4 linked regions of the Homo sapiens genome follow. The protein of the gene in region 4 binds, or shares a complex with, the protein of the main gene of each other region. Each region holds a gene or a part of one and is shown on either strand. Other genes may lie near its edges. The genes, in order: FBXW11, FBXW7, FBXL5 and SKP1.

What was found.
Region 1: the proteins of SKP1 (region 4) and FBXW11 are in contact, whole or in part, in a crystal structure (PDB 6WNX), measured with the Homo sapiens proteins. Residues at the interface, in NP_733779.1 of Homo sapiens: Asp96, Gln97, Gly98, Leu100, Phe101, Glu102, Ile104, Leu105, Asn108, Leu116, Asp117, Cys120, Lys121, Val123, Ala124, Ile127, Lys128, Gly129, Lys130, Pro132, Ile135, Arg136, Lys137, Thr138, Phe139, Asn140, Ile141, Lys142, Asn143, Asp144; in NP_036432.2 of Homo sapiens: Met114, Leu115, Gln116, Arg117, Asp118, Phe119, Ala122, Leu123, Gln126, Leu128, His130, Ile131, Ile135, Tyr138, Leu139, Ala141, Arg142, Ser143, Cys145, Ala146, Ala147, Glu148, Leu149, Val150, Cys151, Lys152, Trp154, Gln155, Trp164, Arg206.
Region 2: the proteins of SKP1 (region 4) and FBXW7 are in contact, whole or in part, in a crystal structure (PDB 2OVP), measured with the Homo sapiens proteins. Residues at the interface, in NP_733779.1 of Homo sapiens: Gln97, Leu100, Phe101, Ile104, Leu105, Asn108, Leu116, Asp117, Cys120, Lys121, Val123, Ala124, Ile127, Lys128, Gly129, Lys130, Thr131, Pro132, Ile135, Arg136, Phe139, Asn140, Ile141, Lys142, Asn143, Asp144, Phe145, Thr146, Glu149, Gln152; in NP_001336727.1 of Homo sapiens: Pro274, Phe276, Gln277, Arg278, Asp279, Phe280, Ile281, Leu283, Leu284, Pro285, Leu288, Tyr291, Val292, Leu293, Phe295, Leu296, Pro298, Lys299, Asp300, Leu302, Gln303, Ala304, Ala305, Gln306, Thr307, Cys308, Arg309, Tyr310, Trp311, Arg312.
Region 3: the proteins of SKP1 (region 4) and FBXL5 are in contact, whole or in part, in a cryo-EM structure (PDB 6VCD), measured with the Homo sapiens proteins. Residues at the interface, in NP_733779.1 of Homo sapiens: Phe101, Ile104, Leu105, Asn108, Leu116, Asp117, Cys120, Lys121, Val123, Ala124, Ile127, Lys128, Gly129, Lys130, Pro132, Ile135, Arg136, Phe139, Ile141, Asp144, Phe145, Glu149, Val153, Arg154, Glu156, Asn157, Gln158, Trp159, Cys160; in NP_036293.1 of Homo sapiens: Ile205, His207, Leu208, Pro209, Val212, Ser215, Ile216, Tyr219, Leu220, Gln223, Glu224, Cys226, Arg227, Cys228, Ser229, Gln230, Val231, Ser232, Met233, Trp235, Ser236, Lys240, Trp245, Arg315, Leu316, Gly319, Leu320, Asn323, Val324, Tyr327.

Annotation. Positions count from the first base shown.
Region 1 is NC_000005.10:171,898,619-171,905,662, forward strand, and holds part of FBXW11 (F-box/WD repeat-containing protein 11), read right to left. Parts: intron 1,483-7,044; coding exon 1,296-1,482; intron 477-1,295; coding exon 386-476; intron 1-385.
Region 2 is NC_000004.12:152,320,005-152,323,097, forward strand, and holds the end of FBXW7 (F-box/WD repeat-containing protein 7), read right to left. Parts: coding exon 2,877-3,093; 3' UTR 540-2,876; downstream 1-539. UniProt on the Homo sapiens protein: Substrate recognition component of a SCF (SKP1-CUL1-F-box protein) E3 ubiquitin-protein ligase complex which mediates the ubiquitination and subsequent proteasomal degradation of target proteins.
Region 3 is NC_000004.12:15,652,323-15,659,372, reverse strand, and holds the start of FBXL5 (F-box/LRR-repeat protein 5), read left to right. Parts: upstream 1-4,015; 5' UTR 4,016-4,085; coding exon 4,086-4,169; intron 4,170-7,050.
Region 4 is NC_000005.10:134,148,431-134,152,990, forward strand, and holds the end of SKP1 (S-phase kinase-associated protein 1), read right to left. Parts: 3' UTR 505-4,560; downstream 1-504. UniProt on the Homo sapiens protein: Essential component of the SCF (SKP1-CUL1-F-box protein) ubiquitin ligase complex, which mediates the ubiquitination of proteins involved in cell cycle progression, signal transduction and transcription.

The sequences.
Region 1 (7,044 bases), about 38 Mb from region 4:
AAACTTGAAATGTGCCTTCTCTAGTTCTCTAGAGATGGCTCAAAAATGTAAAACAATGCTTACTTAAAAAAACGGGGCCTTGGATTTTGGAAAATTTATCAGCTTAGAATAAAAAGATGATTTTAGATTAAGGTTTGAATTAACCGGCAGCCTTGCAGAAGCATTTCATGTTTTAGAAAAGTTAGATATTCTTTGCAAAAGACATTATTTTCTCTGCAGAATAGCTGCAGATTATATACAACATGACACATTTACTCCAAAAGCTCAACTTTTTAAAAAAAATTATTAGTTCTACGATTTTAGACCAAAAGAACACTCTAAGGCAACATAAAAAGTTGAGAACAAGAAACAAAGAGCCCATAAAACAGATAAATCATAAAGTTACCTCTATATCCTGGATAATCTTTGGGTATAATGACCTATAAAATGAATTTGGAGGGCCATCTGTGGGTCTGTTTTTAAACAGGTACTGATCCCTGGCAAATAAAAACAAACAGATGTTACATTTTTGCACATAAAAGGGTGAATTTTATCTAAACATGGTGCTGACAAAGATATATCTTTCATGTCTTTTAATTTGCATTGAGTTTTAACAGTTCAAAAGCAGGATTTCTGACAAATTTACATGTTACAGACAAGTTTAGCTCAATTCACAGCTCTCTAACAAAATCCTGATCGTGTTTTCTGAGTACTAATATGTAACAATCTAGCCTTTCATTCCATAGAGTTTAATAAAAAGCGCTAATGTAGCTTTGTGAAAAATCTAACTTAGTACACATCAAACTTCCTCCCGTAAGGAAAATACAGCCCTATATGCACCTCTGTCTGTAGCTCTCTCTCTTTGCTAACTGGGCCATACAGCATACAGCTAGCTATAAAGCTGCATCAGAGTTATGAGTTTTCTCTGAAAAATCCTATCACTGTTATTACTTCCTCAACCAGCAGTAATAACAAACAGCAAAATGGCACTATCTGACTTTCTCATATTTTTGTCATATCTATATTTTGGTAATGGTATCATCAACTAAGCAAAATGTGAAGGAAAAAACATAAATACATAGCTTTGAAACGCCAAATCCCATCAAACTATATAATACAGTTCATAAAGGAAATACACATTTCAGAGGGAGAAATTTTAACAGCTTTAACTTTTTCTTCCAACTTTTGACCACTCATTTTCCCCCCTTTTTAAAAATAGGCCAGCACATTTGCAAGTATAATTGCATTTTTGAGTAATCAAGCTGACTCTATGTCAATAAAATTTTTTCAAGGGAACAAGCAACCCAAGTACTTACCACCCTCTTCTTTCTGAAAGTCCTTTCCATAGGGGATCAGTGCGTACCATTCGTTCAATCAGCTTCTTCCAAAGCATTCCTTCTGAGATCACTCGCTGCCATTCTTTACATACCAGCTCTGCTGCACACAGAGACCTGGCATCCAGGTACGAAAGAATGTTTTCTGCTATGTGATCTAAGCCTTGCTCTACAAAACAGAAAAGGGAATGAAGGAACGGGAAGAGAGATAGAAAGGTACCAGCCATCATTTCCTTAAAGATAAGAGGAATAAAGAAATCCTGAACCAAGTAAAATATTTTAGTCATATCAAAAGTTCTACAGATACTCAAATCCATGAGTACATAAACATATACACTTCTTTTTGGTTCTGATTTTTTACGATAAAACAATTGATAGCAACTCTTCTCTGTGTGTAAAAGCTGACCTTGGACAGTTCTGTTATTTGTCAAATATTAAGATAAGACTTTTCATTTTCTTTTATATAACTCTCACAGCACTCCTATAGGGCAATGACGCCCCAAGTTTGACAGATGAAGCACAGAAAGGTAAAGAACTCAAGATTTTACACTCCCTTGGCTTTACTACTGGAACTCGGATTTCTTGCTTCAAAGTTTGTGTTCATTCCCATCTTACTCACTGTCTCTCATAACAAATCATATCCCCATTAATCCATACCCGGTGTGAATCCCTGGGAGATCAGAAGACAAAAAAGGCAAAACACCGACTCATCTTGAAAAACTTATGAAAAGTTAAATGGCAATCCAAGAATTAAAGTCGATTGTGCTTAAATGTATTTTTGTCAATCTTTTCATCTCCCTTTCGTGAGTATCCATTTTCTGTTCCTAAACAGATGGGACAATCCTCAAAAGCAATAGCCCCATGTCTACAAATCCTAGAATCTTAGAGGTCATTGGCTTCAACCTCCCACGATACAAGGATACTCTCAAAGAAAACCACTTTCAGCCTCTGCCTGACATTCACAATGGGAAGATGATCAACATGGCCACCACTGTTGCCACCTGTAAACTCCCATCCTGTGGCGGTAAGTATGTCTTCTACAGTTGCAAGAAATAAAGCTTCTCCCCAAGCTTATTCTGTGTAGGGACGAGAACACAGAACTTATCATCAGAAAATTCCCATTTCAAGTCCCAGGTTCACCACTTACTAGTTCTATGACATGAAACAAACACTGAAACATCCCTGTGCCTTGAATTTTTGTGCCCTAACATACAAAATGGTAATCACCAGTAACAACTATCCTTTCTTACACTGTCTGTCAGAATCAAATTCAACAGTTTTATGAAAACATTTTATAGACAAGCACTCTACAAGGTTAATATCTGTTCTCTTTTCTCAAAATAATTAGAAGTAGTATAATAGCACTAAACTTGGTTGTTGAAAGGCCAGATGTAGGTAAATTATTAAACTTTCAGAGTCAGTTTCCTCATCTGTATAAGATTACGATAATCTCTACTTGATTCTGAAAATATCAAAATGAGATGATGCATGAAAAATGCTTTACAAACTAAAGTTCCTTCAATTCTAAGAATGACTATTATTATACCATTGGTTATAATTTCCAGGTCCTTCATATACTAAAATTCTCTTACTCTGGACTAGATCAAAGACCCAAGCTATGGTCTAAGAATAAAGACTACACTGGGACCACTGTCCTTTCCTGCATGTCATTTACAGTTAATGTGGTCAAAGGCTGCACTGCCTTCATCTGATAGTCATATCACAGAAGACGCCTAAGATGGCAGTAAGTTAGAATAAAATCCCAGGCCTCTCCCCCAAAAACATCTATTGAAACAATTTCCCCGAATGCTCTATTTGCACAGCTAGTTGGAAAGGTGGGGGGCAGCTTTGTGCGGTTTATATTTATCCTTACTATAATTCACCTTCAAAGCTTTGTCTGACCCATCCATTTCAGTCTCTAGAATTCTGATTTTTGTCACACCCAGAAGAGTGGGTATTCCACACCAGACCTGCATGATGGGCTAAAGTACTAAGGCAAACATGTTAAACCATGTTGGCAAACACGTTAAACGGGTCAGAACCAAGGACAGCACCCATGACACTAGCTATTAGTACCTATTATTATAATATTTCCCTCCAAGCTAGCACTGATGCCGCATCAATATGCCCAGGGCACCCACACTGCGACATCCGGTCTGTAGTCATCTATATGTGCCATTGCCCAGTCCATATCTCTCTATTCTGTCCTCGGAGGTATTTGGAAAAATCAGCAGATGATGATATTACCATCTATTTACATCATTCTTCAGACCTACCTACTAGCCTGGTAACTTTATCCAAAAAGGAAATAAGGTGAGGAGGGTATGGCTGCTTTCATGTTCCCGTGCTGGGGTTTACTACATAAAGTTGTATTGCAATTTTTCACTTACATGTTGACACTAGCTGCTTGGTAACCCTTTTAAACATATCTAGTTCATGTTCATTATAGAAAATTTATAAAGTGTAGATGAGCAAAAATTTTTAAATCCCTAAACCCCATTTCCCAGAGAAGGGAACCACTTTTCACATTCTGTATACATCCTTCTAGGTTTACACAACCATACACAATCTTTTCAGAGGCTGATTAGCCTTTGAAACTCATCTAAGAATTCTGCTAAAGCACAACATCAAATTTAATAGCTAAATCCCCCAAAAACACCTTCTCCAGTTCTTAAAACCAGGAAGTCTGCTCATCAATCATCTCTGGTGCTATCATGCAAGACTACCATGTGCAACTGTACAAGCTGTACAGGGCACAATTGTACCCAATAGTTCTGCATACTGATTTTCAATTGCTTCACAATGTTCTACAATTTGAAAAATCACAACCACAGGTTTTGCCACTATCCAGGCATACAATGTATTTAGGCCTACTTGTCTATAGGAGCTATGTGATTGCTAAATATCTTCACATCTTTCTCAAACACAACTTTGCTAACCTTTGTTTTAAAGCCATTATTCTTGGGTTGGGGGGATGGTGGGATTAGGTTAATGGGAGTGAAAATATGTTGTTTCTTTCTATTATCACTATACTATCTATTCTAAGCACACTATCCCTTCATCCTTTATAATCTGGCTCCAAATAGTTAATTATTTTGTTTTCAACTCTTTCAATTTACTTCAACATTTTGGACAATTTAACATTATTTGGAGTTTGGTCTTCTTGGTACCATTCTCAAAGGTTTCACAGGGACTCACTCTATCACCCAAGTTGGAGTACAGTGGCACAATCATGGCTCACTGCCACCTCAAACTCCTGGGTTCAAGCAATCCTCCCACCTCAACCTCCCAAGTAACTAGGACTACAGGCACATGCCTCCACACCCAGCTAATTTTTTTTTATCATTTGTAGAGATGAGGTCTCACTATATTGCCCGGGGTGGTCTCCAACTCCTGGGCTCAAGCAATCCTCCTGCCTTGGTCTTGAAAGTGCTGGGATTACAGGCGTGAGCCACTGCGCCTGGCTGCCTTTCTTCCATCTTCTATGTTTACTTAAAATCAGGGAAATCCAAGGATAATCACGTGGGGTTCTGCTTGTGCCTCTCCATCACTAGGATTGACAAATTATTCATCAGAATTTCAAACTGCAGAATCCGTCAGCCTTCTTTTATCACATTTTTGTTCAGTCTCTAGCCGTGGACTAACAGACTTAGCTCTTTCAATCTTTCTAACGCTGGGGTACTTATCTATCTTCCTTTTCTGATTTCTACACTTAATATTAGAACATAGCTAATTACAGCATCTCACTCTGTTGCCCAGGCTGGAGTACAGTGACATGATCATGGCTCACTACAGCCTTGACCTTCCAGAATCAAGTGATCCTCCTGCCTCAGCCTCCCTAGTAGCTGAGACTACAAGTATGCACTACCATGCCAGGCTAATTTTTTTTAAAAAAAATTTTAGTAGAGACAGGATCTCACTATGTTGCCCAGGCTGAGAACATAGCCACTTTTAAAGTAATGTAAACTTCACATCATTAACCCAAATCCTCCTAACTGGTTATAAACACATCTCAAACTAATTCCTCTCTAGAACCCTCTGCTCTCTGAAAGGTGAAACAAATGGCAAGACAAGGATGCATTAGGGGCTGCATGGTGGCTCACACCTGTAATCCTAGAACTTTGGGAGGCCAAGATGGGCAGATCGCTTGAGTCCAGGAGTTTGAGACCAGCCTGGACAGCATGGCAAAACTCCATCTCTACTAAATATACAAAAATTAGCCATGGTGGCACACGCCTGTAATCCCAGCTACTTGGCAGGATGAGGCGCGCGAGAACCACTTGAACCTAGGAGGTGGCGGTTGCAGTAAGTGGAGATCATGCCACTGCACTCTAGCCTGGGTTACAGTGCAAGACTCTGTCTTTTTTTAAAAAAAATAAAAAATAAAAAGAATGCATTAGATACTCGCCTTTTCAAACCTCAAAGGCTGCAACATCCCCATCATCTGTGACGGGAAAGCAGCACCCAAACCTTCAACCTATCTGGGTGGTCTATAAGCCTGTGTGGTTGTATCTGACTCAACTCAGGGTTACTGATTTTCAAAACAACAGCAAAAAGAAAAGATCCCCCCAATCTTCTCCTGACCTACAAAATCAGAATCTCTAGACGGTAAGGCCCAGGAATCTGGGTGTGGTTTTTTTGTTGTTGTTGTTGTTTTTGGAAACAGATTCTCACTCTGTCGCCAGTATGGAGTGCAGTGGTGGGATCTCAGCTCACTGCAACCTCCACCTCCTGGGTTCAAGCGATTCTCCTGCCTCAGCCTCCCGAGTAGCTGGGACTACAGGCGCACACCACCATGCCCAGGTAATTTTTGTATTTTTAGTACAGATGGGGTTTCACCATGTTGGCCAGGATGGTCTTGATCTCTTGACCTCATGATCCACCCAACTCGGCCTCCCAAAGTGCTGGGATTACAGGTGTGAGCCACCGTGCCCAGCCAGGAATCTGTATTTTTAAGAAGTGCCACTAGATAATGCTGAAGTATTAGGAACTATTGGTTTATAGCAATGATATCCCTTTTAGTCCTCTTTGATTCCCCCATCAATTGCTCACAACTAGGCTATCATGAGTTTTTACAGAAATAAATCCCTTACTAATACTTATTTCTTCCTCTTTCAAATGCCATCAGTCCAATTAAGCAACATCTCAGTGATATCTATGAGATTTGACCTATTTCCTTTGTCTGATACTTTAAATGCATTTCCTCCTTCTATGAGGCAGCATGTTTTAGTCTTGTGAAAAACACACTGCCTGAAAGTCAGAAAAACTAGGTTGCATCTCAGTTCTGTCAACTGCTAGTTGTGTGACCTTAAGCAGATCAGTTTTCCTTTTAGGATCTCAGTCTTCCATAATATCAGAATGATATTAAATGTCTGAAATAAATTACATCATATAATCTTCACAATAACCTTCTGAGATAGGTACTCTACATACCCTCATTTTACATAGAGGGAACCTCCCAGTCTTGCTGCGAAAGTTTAAAAAACAGCATACGTAAAGAGCTAGGTAAATAAGAAGTTCACTCAAGAAATATCAGTCTTTGTTCTACTCTCCCCCAAATCCTCTCAGCAGATATCAATGGACAAGGCCGATACACAATATTCTTCTTGTTACCTTCTGCAGAAAAAATACTACGCATCTCCTCCAGCAAAAAGCTAACCCCCCCCCCTTTATTTTCTTGGTATAAGTCTCATGGCCCCTTAAATGTTTTGAGAAGAACAGGAATCACACA
Region 2 (3,093 bases), on a different chromosome or scaffold from region 4:
ACAATTCACAGTCATCAATGTGAACAGTAGTCACGGTTTGGGCAGTAACGTGGTTTACTCTAAAGACCCTGCACTTCACGGCCTAGTAGGATTTTTGCCTTGCATTCAACCAGGTAGTTTTTTGTTTTTTTCCTTTACCCTGTCACTTTTCCTTGCTATTTTTGTGTCTGTAATTTGCTGTGGACTAATAAACCAAATAACCAAATGTACAGGAATGGTATCTAAAGCAATGGTTCTGAAACTTTAGTATCCACAACTCACCTGGTGAGCTAGTTTAAATGCAGGTTCTTGGGTCACACTCCCAGGTGTTCTGATTTAGTAGCTTTGGGAGAATGAGGCCCAGGATTTGCCCTATGAGTAAAGAACACATACTTTATGACTATGAGAAAAAGGGGAGTCCATTTTCAGTAGCTTTTATATTTTCATCTACGGCCTGGTTAGTTGAGATTACTGGATGTGTGTATATATATATGTGTGTGTATATATATATATATATATATATATCTCCTGCTATTTGAGATACTAAATATATTTAGAACTAGTTTCAAAAACAACTTTATTTTTTCCCCTTACATCATAAAATTTAGATTTTATAAAATTTAGATTTGTTGAACAAAACGGCTACAGAACAGTCAGAAAGTACCAGAAAAATGGCTTATTTCCCTCTCAAACCTTGCTTTAGTCTGTCAAACTTTCTTAAAGAGCAGCATGTATTTAGTCTTTGGAAATATGGGTTTGAGTTCTGGCATTCCGCTAGTTCTATGATTTGACAAATTGCCTAACCAGTCTCAGCTGCAGATTTTTGCTCGTCTTTAAGATGGGAGATAATAGTGCCTACTTCTCAGGGATAGTGGGAGCTTAAGAGAGAATGAACAGAAAGTATCGAGGGTAAGCACTTAATATGTGGTCAAAATTTCAAAATGAATTTGTTATTTATAAGGCTTCTAGTTGTAATTATCACAAAAGTTTTGTGGATTCTTTGAGGGAACCAGATTTCATATTTATACACCCCAATGCAATCTACAGAGATGAGCACAGTGGAGTGTCCTCCTTCATAGTCTAGGAGAGAAATAAAATTTGCAGTTGCAGCACATTATCCTTACTTTCGCGGTATAAAACAGGCTTGAAGTATTGATTTCTATGTCACACAGCAGGATGCAAAGAAACCAAGATTTTGCTTATTTAAATATTATAGACAAATCCTAAATACTTATAATGAAGGATTATTACTTCAGTGGAAGAAACAGGCATACTAACATGAAAAAACACATTTTATTGCACTTAAGTTATAAGAAAATAAAATTTCTAAGTGAATCAAACCATAGACACAATCCCTTTAAAGGTTGTTTTCCTCCATCATGTCAGGTTGTTACATAACTAAAATTAACCAACTTGAATCTGATTGTTTTAAATCAGACTATAAATAAAACAAACAAAAAAATAAACAGAAGGAGGAAAAAAGATCGCCTAGGATACAGTGTTAAACCACTTTCACAGTTCAGCTTGAGTTGTGGCTCTTGGAGAATGAGGCAAACCATTTGACTGTTTCATTCATTTTGTTTGTTTGCATGTGACGCCTTTACTACAAAAACTGAATAGTTTCTGCTTTGTCAGTTACTCAGAGCAATAAAACTGTAACAGTTGTTTTCCCAAATACTGTAAAACACTAAGACTGACCAGCAACTTTATTTTAATTTTGTGTTTTATATATTTTTAAAATATTTTGTCAGTTTTACGATGTACGTTCATCCATTCACCACAGCCCTCAAAAAGAAAAGTTTCTCCACAGAACAGGCAAGTAATAGCTCTGTTCCAAGGAATGTGTTTTAATTTTTGCCCAGATAAAAGAAAATAAGCTTTGCACACACTCTCAATTCTTTACTTGCAGGCAAACTTCACTCTTTATTATCTGAAACTCTTCCATTCTCAGCCTCTTAGAGGCACAGATGGCTCAAGTTTCAGTGGCAAAAAGTCTTTTTTCCATAACCAAACTAGAGCAAATTTGGAATTCAGTCTGGGACTAAAACGTCACAGCAGAAAAAAAATAAAAAAAAATAATTTGCTTTTTTCTTTCTTTCATTTAGCAGCATAAATAAGTTTGGCCACTGGGAGTACAGTACAGGGTTGGGACAACAATCCCATATTTGAAGACCTACTTCTAGCACCAGCATCAAGAATTAAATCCATCTCAGGACTCACAGAACCCAGGACAACTTGCCACCTTTGAGCAACATATGCATTGAAGAATGTATATGGAAGCAACAGTAAATAGATTAACAGAGGCTAATACTGTGATTGATTGACATTGGCAATGGTTGGCAAAAAAAAAAAAAAAAAAGCTTTTCATGATAACTGTACAAAAACAATTCACAGTAATTTTTTTAAGCTTTTCCACTCCAGAAAAATGACTTTTTGTTGCAGATGCTCTCTAATTAGAAAGTCAACCAGTACTTGTTTTGATATTATTGCAGTTCCTTTCTAGGTGTCTAGCTGTCAGTGGTAAAAGAACAGGCTAGCAGAATCTGTAATGATGTTTCAGCATTAACACTGCCCAATGACCACTGGAGAAGAAAATAAAGAAATAATTGCACCTGGTTTGATTTAGAAAGTCTCATTTTGCAAAGCTGCCCTCAGTCAAAAGTGAAGCCTTTTATGTGATGAGACAGCAGACGCCTCTCTTGTCAGTTATGGTTTGTCATCTCTTCTTCTTTTCCTTCTTAGTCTGTAGGTCTTTTCAATCTGTTGCCCCAAGCCAACATCCTGCACCACTGAGAACAAGGGATTTTTTTCTTTTTCTTTTCTTTTTTTCTTTTTGCAGGGGGAAGGGCAGGGAGTATATCGTCTACACAATTGGACAAATTCATCTTTTCTGCTCTTCACTTCATGTCCACATCAAAGTCCAGCACCAGCAGCTTGGTTTCTTCAGTCCCATTCCGACTCCCAACTGCACACACCAGCTTTGTGTTTGAGGCTCTGATCCGCCACACAACTCCCCCACTCCCCCCACTCTCCAATGTGACTAGGTTTCGAATAAATTCACCCGTTTTCAAGTCCCATAGTTTTACAGTTCCATCATCTGAGCTGGTAATTACA
Region 3 (7,050 bases), on a different chromosome or scaffold from region 4:
AAATTAGGACTTTAAATATAGCTTGTTTGGATTAGTTTTTCTTAAAAACCATATATGTATATTACTGAATAACAGGAGTATTTTGGTTTGTAAAAACTTTTCAAATTCTCATTCATGCAGCAAGAAATATTTTATGCCTACTATGTATGCCTACTACTTGTTCAGGGAATGTAGATAAACATTATTACATAATGTCAGGTACTTAAAACTGCTAAGAAATTAATTATTTTACTGGGTACCCTTCCATTTATGACATTCTTCTGATTTTTTGTCATTAAATATATTATTTAGTTAAAGCACAGGAGGGACTGAAATTAATGAGGAAGAAACATTGATCACTGCAGCTGATTAAGGATGGGGTGGATAGTATGAAACTGAGTTTAAAAGCTGGGAAATTCCAAGAACAGTAATCAGGATTTATTCAACTTTATATCTCAAGCTCCTGCTGCATATTGGGTGTCCAGTTTAACGCTGAATATGAAAAAATTAAGTCTCTGGAGTCCCAGATGGATAATTTTTCTTAATATTTAATGCTGAACTTAAGGGCCACTTCTACCAGAAAGCCCTCTGTGGCTATCGAGAAAGTAGATTAAGACATCATCCTGTATGTGCCTGTCTTAGTCTGTTTTCTATTGCTTATAACAGAATACCTGAAACTGGGTAATTTATAAAGAAAAAGAATTTATTTCTTACAGTGTGGGGCTGAGAAGTCTATGGTCAAGGGGCTGCATCTGATGAGGGCCTTTTTTCTGGTGGCGACTCTGCAGAGTCCCAAGGCAGTGCAGGACATCACATGGCGAGGGACTCAGCATGCTGGCACAGGTCTTTCTTCCTCTTGTAAAGCCACCAGTCCCACTCCTATGATAACCCATGAATCCTTTAATCCATGAATGAATTAAGCCATTCATGAGGGCAGAACTTTCATGACCCAATCACCTCTTAAAGGCCCCACTTCTTAATACTGCCTTATTGGGGATTAAGTTTCAGCATGAGTTTTAGAAAGGACAAACATTCAAACCACAGCAATTCCTAAATCAGCCTGCTGCAGCAGTTGTTGATTGACTATTTTGATGGACAGTAAGGATCAACTCTGGTACTGAGTGAGGACTATGATTCCAACTGGGTCAAAACGTAAACATTCTTTCATTGCTTGTTTTCACAACTAATCCCCTATTAGGGAAAGTGCTGTGTCACATACTCAAACGGAGTGAAATGCCTTAGAATTGACCCTCCCTGGCCAATAACCCTTTCCAGGGTTCTCAAAATTAGGCTTGGAAACTACTATAGAAGAGGCCTATTGATAACAGAATAAGTTATATTTTTAGGTTGCCAGAGAGAGAATGAGAGTAGGTAAGAGAAACGACCAATTCTACCAGTTATTCTACAATGTGGGTTTTCACTGCTCTGTTCACATGCCTTATTCAGACTTCTTGTGGTGGTCAATTGCTAGATGGTCTGTTGGAATTATCTGCTGTCATACATCCAAAAAGGTCTCACAGAGAGGTAAAGTGACAACCTTGGTCTTAATAACCCTCCCAAATCTGCTGTAGTTGCAGTAACCTATGGTAATGATACTACACTGATCAATGACCTCTTTAGAGCTAAAGTTCAGTAAAGTCAGTCATTTATTTTGGATATATCAGGTGATTAATTGCTACATAATTCAGCATATGGAGCTAATGTTAATAGCTTTCCATGGGAAAAATTACTCACAGGGATTATTTTTAAAATCACTTTCTTTCATTTTGTCATCTAAAACAAATTCCTTGAAATGGCCAGTGTCCAAAGTGGCTGTTACTACTTTTCAGCTGATTATAGAGCTTCAAATCTGGGTTACAGTGAAACTGTGTGGATGGACTTTTTTTGTTGTTGTTGCCAAATACCTTTTTAATGTGTCTGGTTCTACAGATGGATACACTAGTGAACAGCACAGACACAAACAGTTGATTGGACAAGACAACATAGCATATTAAACATTAGTAAAAATGAGGAAATTACACAGTGCTATGAACTACCCTCATTCTTTTTTCCAACATATTTACTGAATACTCACTTTATGACAGACATCATTCTAAGTGCTGAGGATAAAACAAAGTGCATGTTCTCATGGAGCTCATTTCTCTATATAACTGGTTCACCTGAGGTCTGATTCTGCATTCCAAGATAGCTGGAGTGAAAGATTAGTATGAGGTAAAGAAATAGAGGGTAAATAAGAAAATGCTCTCTGGAGGTTATTAAAAAATATAGAGGCAAAGTCCTGGCAAAAGAACGAGAAACGGGGTGAAAGGGAGAAGGAGGAAGAGAGAAATTAATCTTTATCAAATATTTTATTATTATTCTATTTCTTAAGCCTTATTCCTGCTTCTTAAGACAGACTGTGAATAAGCCATCTCTGTATCCCAACTAATGCAATGACTCTGGGGGTACTGTCAGATCCAGATTTATATGACAGATTTTTGACTTACTAATTTGTGGGACCCTAGGCAACTACTAGAATGTCTTGAAGACTTAATTTCCTGCAGCACTACCTCATAGAGTTGCTTTAAAAAAGTATTACTAGCTTACAGACGGTACTGTTATAAGTGCTTCAAATATATAAATCCTCATAAAGATTCTGAGGTAGGTATTATTAGCTTCATTTCATGTCAGAGCAAACTGAGGCATAAAGAAGTCATATAGCTTGTTAACGGTTGTATAGCTAGTGTCTGGCAAAACCAGGAATCTTAACTTCCAGAGTCTGTGGTTTAACCACTGTTCACACTGTCTATAATAGCATATAGTAATATAAGATTAGAACTAAATAGGGTGCATTCCACTGCAAAGTTCTTTCTCACCTTCTTCTACTCCATTATTTGTTGACTATTTACTGATCCCCATGTTGTCTTGCAACTGTGATAGATAATAGAGAACAAGGGTGAACACAGCATATCTGGTTCTTGCCCTCCTGGAGGTTCTGGCCATTAAGCAAATAACAATTCCTCCCAAGGTTCTCAGGCTTCCCTGTTTTCTCCTATTTCTCTATCTGTCCAGCAGTACTCCAGCCAACCAATCTAAGACTGACCGGCGTGAGCAGAGAACAGAGTCTCCAGGAGGTCTGTGGCCAGGGCCAGGCGATTTATGGGAAAGAGGCAGACATTTTCCTGGGTTAGTGACCTTGTTTTCTCTCCGAACCTCCGCTTAAAATGGCGGGATTTGTACCAAGGTTCTTTCCCGCACCAACCTTCCATTATTCACCCTTCTCCCCACCCCCAAGGCCCGTCGGGCCTATCCCTGACCCGCGTTCCTGCACTTGAGGTGCATTTCCGCACCTGGATCCCCAGATACTGTTTTTCCCCCACGTTGAGTCTCCCGAATTTCACGAGAACTCTCTCTCGCGGTCTCTGCCCCGCCCCTCGCACCCAGGCCCCGCGCCCGCTGTGGGCTGCCGCCCGGGACCGAAGCTCTCAGAGCCCGCAGCTCTGGTTCACCAACCGCTGGGTGGGAGCCAGGCCCGGCCTTTGAGTGGCGGCCGGGGTGGTCTGCGCTCGGCCCCAGGAAAAATCTGGCACGGGCCAATCGCAGGGAGGCGAAGGGCAGCTCCGGAGGTCCTGGCCAGAAGCATTGGTCACCCAGGCCAAGCAGGCGTCGGGGCGTGGGCACAAGCAGAGCTCGCGGCCCTGACCGCGGCCATTGTGCTTGGCTGCCTCTCCTCAAGGCCGTGGTGGGCAGGGCAGCAACGGGAGAAGCGCCGAGAGCGCCACTGCAACGACTTTCCCCTACCCTCAGCTACTGTGCTTTCATGTAGTGAAAGAAACAGGGAAAAGGTTTGGGTTCCTTCTGCGGCTTATGAAGACGACAAAAAACGAAAAGAGTGGGGGCGGGAGGCAGAAGCCGCGAGCCTCTGCGCGCGCCCGGTCACGTGGGCCGCAGGGATCGCATGGCGGCGGCCTGCGCGCCCCCGCGTCCCCGCCGGCCAAGCCGACCGGGCGCGCGCGCCGACGGGGCGGGCGCATGCGCAAGGGGGCGCGCCGCCTCTGCCCCGCGGCGAGGGTGTCTATGGAGAGGCGGCGGCCGCGGCTGCTGAGGCGGAGGCTGAGGCAGTGGCGATGGCGCCCTTTCCTGAAGAAGTGGACGTCTTCACCGCCCCACACTGGCGGATGAAGCAGCTGGTGGGGCTCTACTGCGACAAGGTAACGGAGCGCTGAGCCTCCCGCTGTGGGCGGTGCGGGCGGCGATGGGGAGCGGGCTGGGTTCTTGGGGCGGCCTGGCCTGCGCCGCGCCCGCAGCCCCGTGCCGTCGCCGCGCGAGTAGCCGCCTGCGCAGCTGTCAGCGCCGCCCGCTCCCGCAGCCTGCCCGCCCGCTGCGAGGCCTTCGCAGAGCCGGCCTGGCCGCCGCCTCGGACGTGCTCTCGGGGCGGGCGGCGTCCCCTGCCGAGGGCCTGGCGGCTGAGGAGGGGCGCTACCGGCGTCACTGGCCGCCCTCGGGCCGGCCCCACCGCCGCGCTGGGACTCCCGCTGCTGCCTCTAAGGAGAGCGGCCCTACCTCCTCGAAGCCCTGGGTGCCCCGGCCGGCCACCTGCGGTGGACTCCCATCTGCACCGAGTAGTTGTTCCCGTCCCCCGTCACTCCCCCGGGCCTGTTCGGGGCTCTCCGTGCAGACACCCACCCATCCTCTGCACCTCTCGCTGGCTTCCTGGCTGGAACTGCAGCGTCTCCCAGCTACCCGGTTCCTTTTACCCCCGGCTTTCTTCACTGGTTTGATTTGGGAGAAAAGCCAAGTTTAGAACTGAAGAACCTTCACTCTTCATGTGTCGTTATCGTTTTCCTTGCAACTTTTATTGCCCTGAACACTTACTGGATGTAGATTTTGTTATAAGACAGCAATTCTCTCTTGGATTTCTTTATATGAGCTCGAATAAAGGGGGCCTCAGGAAAAGTTGGTTTAACTGTGAGAACCATTTTGGGCCCATAATTGGTGCAGCATAAGCTGAAGAGGCACTTTTGTGGAGATGGTTCAGGGCCCTTTGCTAGTGATTTTAAAACAATATTAACATTCCACGTATTTGTCAGTTTATGTTGGGGAAAGTCATGGATATCTGCAAACCTCAGGCAGTCCCGTTTCTTGTGGAAATGATCCAACTAAATAAAGCATTCAAATGACTACTGTTTAAGCATAGAAATCAACTTTTAGGAATTCTCAGAAATTGCATAGCATTATGCAGAACCATTGTCTACAGAAAAGAGGGGTGTTTCATAGCTCAGCCAGGCGATTGGAGGATGCCCAGGGTATTCACTGTTAGGCCACACTCAAGACCAGCAATTTAAAGCAGTGACGTTGAATTTCAAATCTTAGCACTCCATCTTCTCCCTCCCTCCATTCTGAAAATTTAGAAACACCCAGTTCACATGAGTTGGAAACACCAGGACTGTCTAGGACAATGGTTTGCAACCTTGGTTGCTTATTAGCCTTAAACTAAAAACTATTAGAAGTCCTGATGTCTAGGTCACTAAAATTAGGATTTCACCCAGACATCAGGTATAAATGATTAAAGCTCTCCATTTGAGTGCAGTATGCAGCTGAGGGTGAGAACCACTCATCTAGGAGAAGCATGAGGAATGGTTAAGCCATTAAGCAAGAGGGTATATCCCTGAATTTTTTACTTAGCAGTATTATAGTGTTTTTATCCTCTCTGGCTTTTGAATATCGTTCATTCAGACACCATTCTTTAATAGCAGGAAAGAAAAAAAAAATGGTCTCAAAAATCGAAAGTGGAAGTGAAGACTAACAGAATCCAAGGTTTTCTCTCCACTTTAGACTGTGGAGAGGTAGCCTAGGATCACCTGAAATTATATGGAAAATTTTGTGCGTGTGTCCATTTTCCTAGGGTGTTTGTAGCTTTCATCGATTTCCAGATGATTGTGACCTCCCAAAATAAAGAATCACAATTTAATTTACTTGCAGACTAAGGCTAAGCAGCCTTATTTTAAAATTTTCAAGAAGTTAGTCGCTCTTTTTCTGTCTCTTCCTGGTGGTTGAGAGTATTTGAACAAATTTTGAAAATGCAGTTGCTTTTTTACAAGATATCTGAGCCAAGAGTCTTTTCAGTAATGTTCCCACTTGCATAACTAGTTTAATAAAGCATTTTCAATTTGACATGGTGTAAGTCAAAATTATTACTAATTCTGAATTAATTAGATATAGTTAATGAGATTGTTGTATACGTTTATCACGAAGATTAAAAGTCCAATTTTCTGAACTGAAACTGAGGCGATTTAGGGAAAAAAAAATGCATAGGAATTTTACATCTGGATTTCTTCTTGATACTGATAGCCAATGGAAATCTCTCTTAGGATGTCCTTTGGGAGCTAGAGTGGAAAATAAGTATTTTGTAATGGTTCAGTAATCTTAAAGGAATTAAAGGAAGAGTACCTTGTTTGTTTTTATCCATTTATCATCTCACGTTTTGCCATCCTTTGGTTGTATAGACCAAGGATATCCAACCAAACAGTTTACAATAAAACTATATAAAATGAGAACTAGTTTTTATGCTCAGACTAAAAAGGTACAAAATAGTTATTTCACTGTACAAATTTGGGCTCTGAATGCCCAGTTATTATCAAGAAGTCAGTTACTATTTTCAATATTGAACTTCTCAAGTAGAATGTATTTTAGAAGCATCCATTTATTTACTAGCATCAAGTAAACCACTTATATGCTTAAGCCAGTTAGTATAATGTATTCCAAAGTTATGTTAGTCTACTTATTTTTTAGGTATAAAGGTGAATAGGATGAGAAAATAAATTTTCAAAAGCTGACAGATGTATGTCTTAGACCATTTTAAATATTGCTGTACAATACCCGATTTAATACTTTGCCCATGGATTTCTTTTTACATCTGTAAAAAGTTTTATGGAAAGGTTTTTCACCTTTGTTATCCAGACAACAGTGCTTTGAGTTATGTAAAGACAAGGTATTTCTGTTTTATAGCTGGGGACTTAGAGGCCTAGATTAGCTAGGCCAAGGTTACATAAGCAGCTAGTGGTAGATTCAGATGGAAACCCAAGTCATTGT
Region 4 (4,560 bases):
ATTCCAAGCTTTGCTCTTAACCCCACAATGATGCAGGCCAGCCTGCTCCCCAGTGCTCATATAAGAATAAATGAGTTGCCAACTGCCGTCCATAAAGGCTGACAAGACAATTCAACCTGAAATAGGTACACATGACCACTAGGCTCCATTTTCCTCTGAGGGCAGAGAGAAAAGAAAACATTCCACAAGTGCATATCCTATTTCAAGGAAAACAAGAGCAAACGAGTCTTTTATAACCTATTAGCACCACAAAATCCTAAAGGAGGATTTTTTAATAGCACCCCTTCCTCCCAAAGACTGCATCTTTTTTTTTAATTATTATTATTATACTTTACGTTTTAGGGTACATGTGCACAATGCGCAGGTTAGTTACATATGTATACATGTGCCGTGCTGGTGCGCTGCACCCAAAGACTGCATCTGTTAAGACGCAAAGTATTTTTCATATTTTCACACAAGCCTTCAAGTTTGATAAATCTATTACCCACTTTTTAAAAAGTTACATACGCTGTTGGTGGACACGACAGCCACCATATCCACTTTATTTTTAGATTATTTGTATACATTTAGGGGGTACAAATGCAGCTGTGTTACATGAATATATTGTGTAGCGGTGAGGTCCGGGCTATTTTTAGATTATTTGTATACATTTAGGGGGTACAAGTGCAGCTGTGTTACATGAACATACTGGGTAGCGGTGAGGTCCGGGCTTTTAGTGTGCCTCTCACCCAAACAGTGTACTGTGCACGTAAGTAGTGTACATTGTACTCAACAGGTAGGATTTCATACCTCATCCCCCTTTCATCTCCCACCTTTTGAAGTCTCCAATGTCTATTATTCCATTCCGTATCCATATACCATGTGTACTCACTGTTTAGCTCCCTACAACCCACTTTTTACATGAGTTTCCACCAAGTACACTGCTGTCTTCCTGAGACCTATCATGAATGTAAAAGGTGTCATGAAGGCACCTCAATAGGTCAGTCAACAAGTAGATGATACATGTCAGGCAAGAAGTATTTCACATGGGACAGCCACTGGGCCACCATCATGCATTGTCATTGTCACTCCACTGAGTTCTATTTTTTGGATTTTGTGTTTAAAGTATAAAGTCATTTTCCAGAACAGCGTCTATTTAAAGTAGGCCACTGGAAGTTGTAACCCCAGACTTGCTTTTGCTTCTGAGAGAGTGCTAGAGGACACTAGCCATTCTCTGGACATCTGTCCCATTTTAAAGAATTCTGTTCTGGCTACTGGCCTAGTTGTTTAAAAAACCTACATTCTAACCAGGGCTTATGCAAGACCAGGTTGCTGCATCTGATTTGGTGTCTCACTTAGAGTACACAGGGTACCTGAACAATGCAGTCTTTGTGTATTGGCGGGGAAGTCTTTGGCAACTCTGTTTAAATCAGATCAGCTTTTTTTTTTTTTAATCTGACTTCATAAAGGAAACTCAGATCCTCCCAAATCACCCTGGTGCATTCCTGCGAGGCCAGAGGGTGACTTGAGATTGCAACCTCAAGTTCAACTGCTAATACCACACCAGTCCCCCTTCACTGCCAGCTGAGAACCAACCCTGTTTCCTGAGACATCATAAGACAAGATACCTTAGCCTCCCTTGAACATTTCCAGACAACTAGCAGACTGGCAACTTGGGTGAAAGACGTTCATCCCTCCCCTGGTACAGCTGCTCCCCATTTTGTTCTCTGTGGATATGGTGAGGGTTCAGCCCAGCAAGCAGACAAAGCCTATGTCTCCCAACGTGAAGGTGTCTACTTTAACAGAACCCCATGGATGGACTCTCTTCTGACATGTAATTATCTTTTGAATGGCTCCTGTGGTCTCCCATTCCTTCTGGCTGTGGACCCCTAACAGCTAGCTCAGAAGCACTGCACCCTAGCTTTGTTCAGTATACATAAGCCTGGCCAGGAAGGCCACAAGTAAAGGGAAGCGGAAGGGTTCTTTATATCCTGTTCCAGAGAGGAAGAAAGGGAATCAGTTCCTGCATCCGTTTCTCAGAAAACAGCACAGAACAGAAGGGGTAAGGGTAACAAGGCCATGTTAAACTACCTCTTAGGCCTATATGTCAAAGTAGAATTTAAGACCCAAATCTAGTTAATTGTATAAAAAGGCTAAGTTGGCTTTTCTTTGAGGTTCTTTGAGAGTCCTTAACTGCGACTCTCAGATCTCTTCAGAGCATTTTTTAAGCTCTTCAGGGCTTTAAGAGTTCACCAAGGGTTTCTGAAACAGCTGCCCACCCAAGCAGACCCTGGTTGTGTCAACTCCCCCAATCCCAACTTATTGTGATAACCTTGTTCCAAATCTCAAATCACCCTATGGGCATCTTTCAAATTCTGACTCCTGAGCTCTTCTCTAATAGTTTGGAGCTACTAACAAACCATTACTGGCAGTGAGCATCTGAAAATACTCAAAACGGCACCGAGTTTGAAAACAGGAAACATAGATGGTGGGGATGTTCACATACACAGTCCCTTAGAATAAAAGCCTAGCTCAGGTCAGGAAGGATTTTCAAGCTCTTAAAGATAGCATGGGATTAGGCATGTTAACTGGAAAGGGAAAACTTATGTCCTGGGGGTGGGAACTATACTATCACAAGCAGTCCTCACAAGTTAGGTCACTATTGGTAAGGGATGTTTCACTTCTGAAGACAAGATAGCAGCTGTGAATTATGCGGGAGATAGTCCAGGCCAATACTTCTTTCATATTCACCAGGGGCTCTGGACCAAGTCTTCCTTTTTCATTCAAGTGTTCTCATTCTTTTATCTGAAGCCTAGTTCTTTCAGGCATGTGCAATGTCAGGAAGCGGGGTGGGGCTTGGGGAGGGAAGAGGAAAAGCCAGGTTCCACTCACCAAAAATAAATAAATAAATAAATAAAAATTTTTACAAAGCCACTCTGGAAACCCTGCTTGAGTACTTGAGGATAGAGTACAGCTTCTCTATTTTCCCACCCCTTTCCGTAAGCTTCCTGGAACAGAAAAATCTGCAAAGCAACTGAAGAAGGCAGTTAGAGGTTGTGAAATGGTACATTCAGGAAAGAAAGGACAAATAAGAATTTTCACCAGATAGGTGGGAGGTATTCAAAGTGAGAGCACTTTAAGGAAATAAGCTGATCCTCAGTGTGCAATAAGAGGCTGCTATATAGCAGGTTGAAAATTTGAAGTTAAGAGATATCAGAAGGTCTGAATATACTTAAATACTTCCAGAAAATTTAAAGTTGACAGATATCAGAAGGTCGCAAGAACTACAGATGTGGAAGCAGACACTGTTATGAGCAACTACATTCCTCCCATAGAATGCTGCTCAATACTGGCACACAGACCAGAGGTAGCCAGCAGTACACAAGACTGCAAGGCAACAAGTACATTATCAATGAATTAGCCATCTATCACTCAAACTATGTCCCGCATTGGAAGTGTGTCAAGCAAGAGCACCTTCGACAACACTTTTCGGCCACCACTAATGATCATCTCCACTGATGCCTCAGCAGAAAGGATAACATTCAGCCAATCCTGCTTAGGTGTCCAAATGGCTCAATCTTGGGCCAAAGGACATGCTCTGAAATATTTCTTACACCATACTTCATCTTGATATGCACAGCCAGTTCTCTTACTCATTCTCTGTGACCACTGGAGGTAGTGATTTTTAACAACAGTAAACAAGAAAAAGTCATCAGGACTCTAACTGTAAAACCCCCAACATTCAAAAGACTGGTTTAGTTGAACAGCCAAAAAATAAATAAATAAAAATTAAAATTAAAAAAATTAGAATTTAGCTCACTCAAAAATTGCCCTGCCTAATGTGGGTCTGATGAATAAATGCTGATAAAATACTACTGAGTGTCAGCAAAGTACTGTGACTAATCCTGCCCTAATTTCTCTTTAGTCTATATTCTCAGGGAAATGTACCAACACCCAACCTTCTGCTGTTAGTTCCTGACTGTGCACTGCTTTTTCCTCACTTTGGCATCTGTCCACCCCCAAACAAATCCAACTTGATTCTTGAAACCAAATTAGTTTCACTTTACAAAACCTTTCGTAGCACCTTTCAGCTCTGTAGCCCCCCATTGGCTCATTAATCTGTTCTGTCCAGAAACTTTTTTTTTTTGAAACGGAGTCTCGCTCTGTCGCCAGGCTGGACTGCAGTCAGTGGCGTGATGTCGGCTCACTGCAACTTCCGCCTCCCGGGTTCAAGCGGTTCTCCTGCCTCAGCCTCCCGAGTTGCTGGGACTACAGGCATGTGCCACCACGCCCAGCTAATTTTTGTATTTTTAGTAGAGATGAGGTTTCACCATGTTGGCCAGGATGGTCTCGATCTCTTGACCTCGTGATCTGCACACCTCAGCCTCTGAAAATGTTGGGATTACAGGCGTGAGCCACCGTGCCCAGCCCAGGAACATTTTTATTAGAGTTATCCACTCCCTCCCAGCAGTATTTATGCCTTCTCTCCTGAACTACACCAAAAGCTCCCAGCTCCCTAGAGGGAAACCATGTCTAATGCTTCCTACCAAGGAGAAGCCAGGAGCTACACTTTAAGGATTC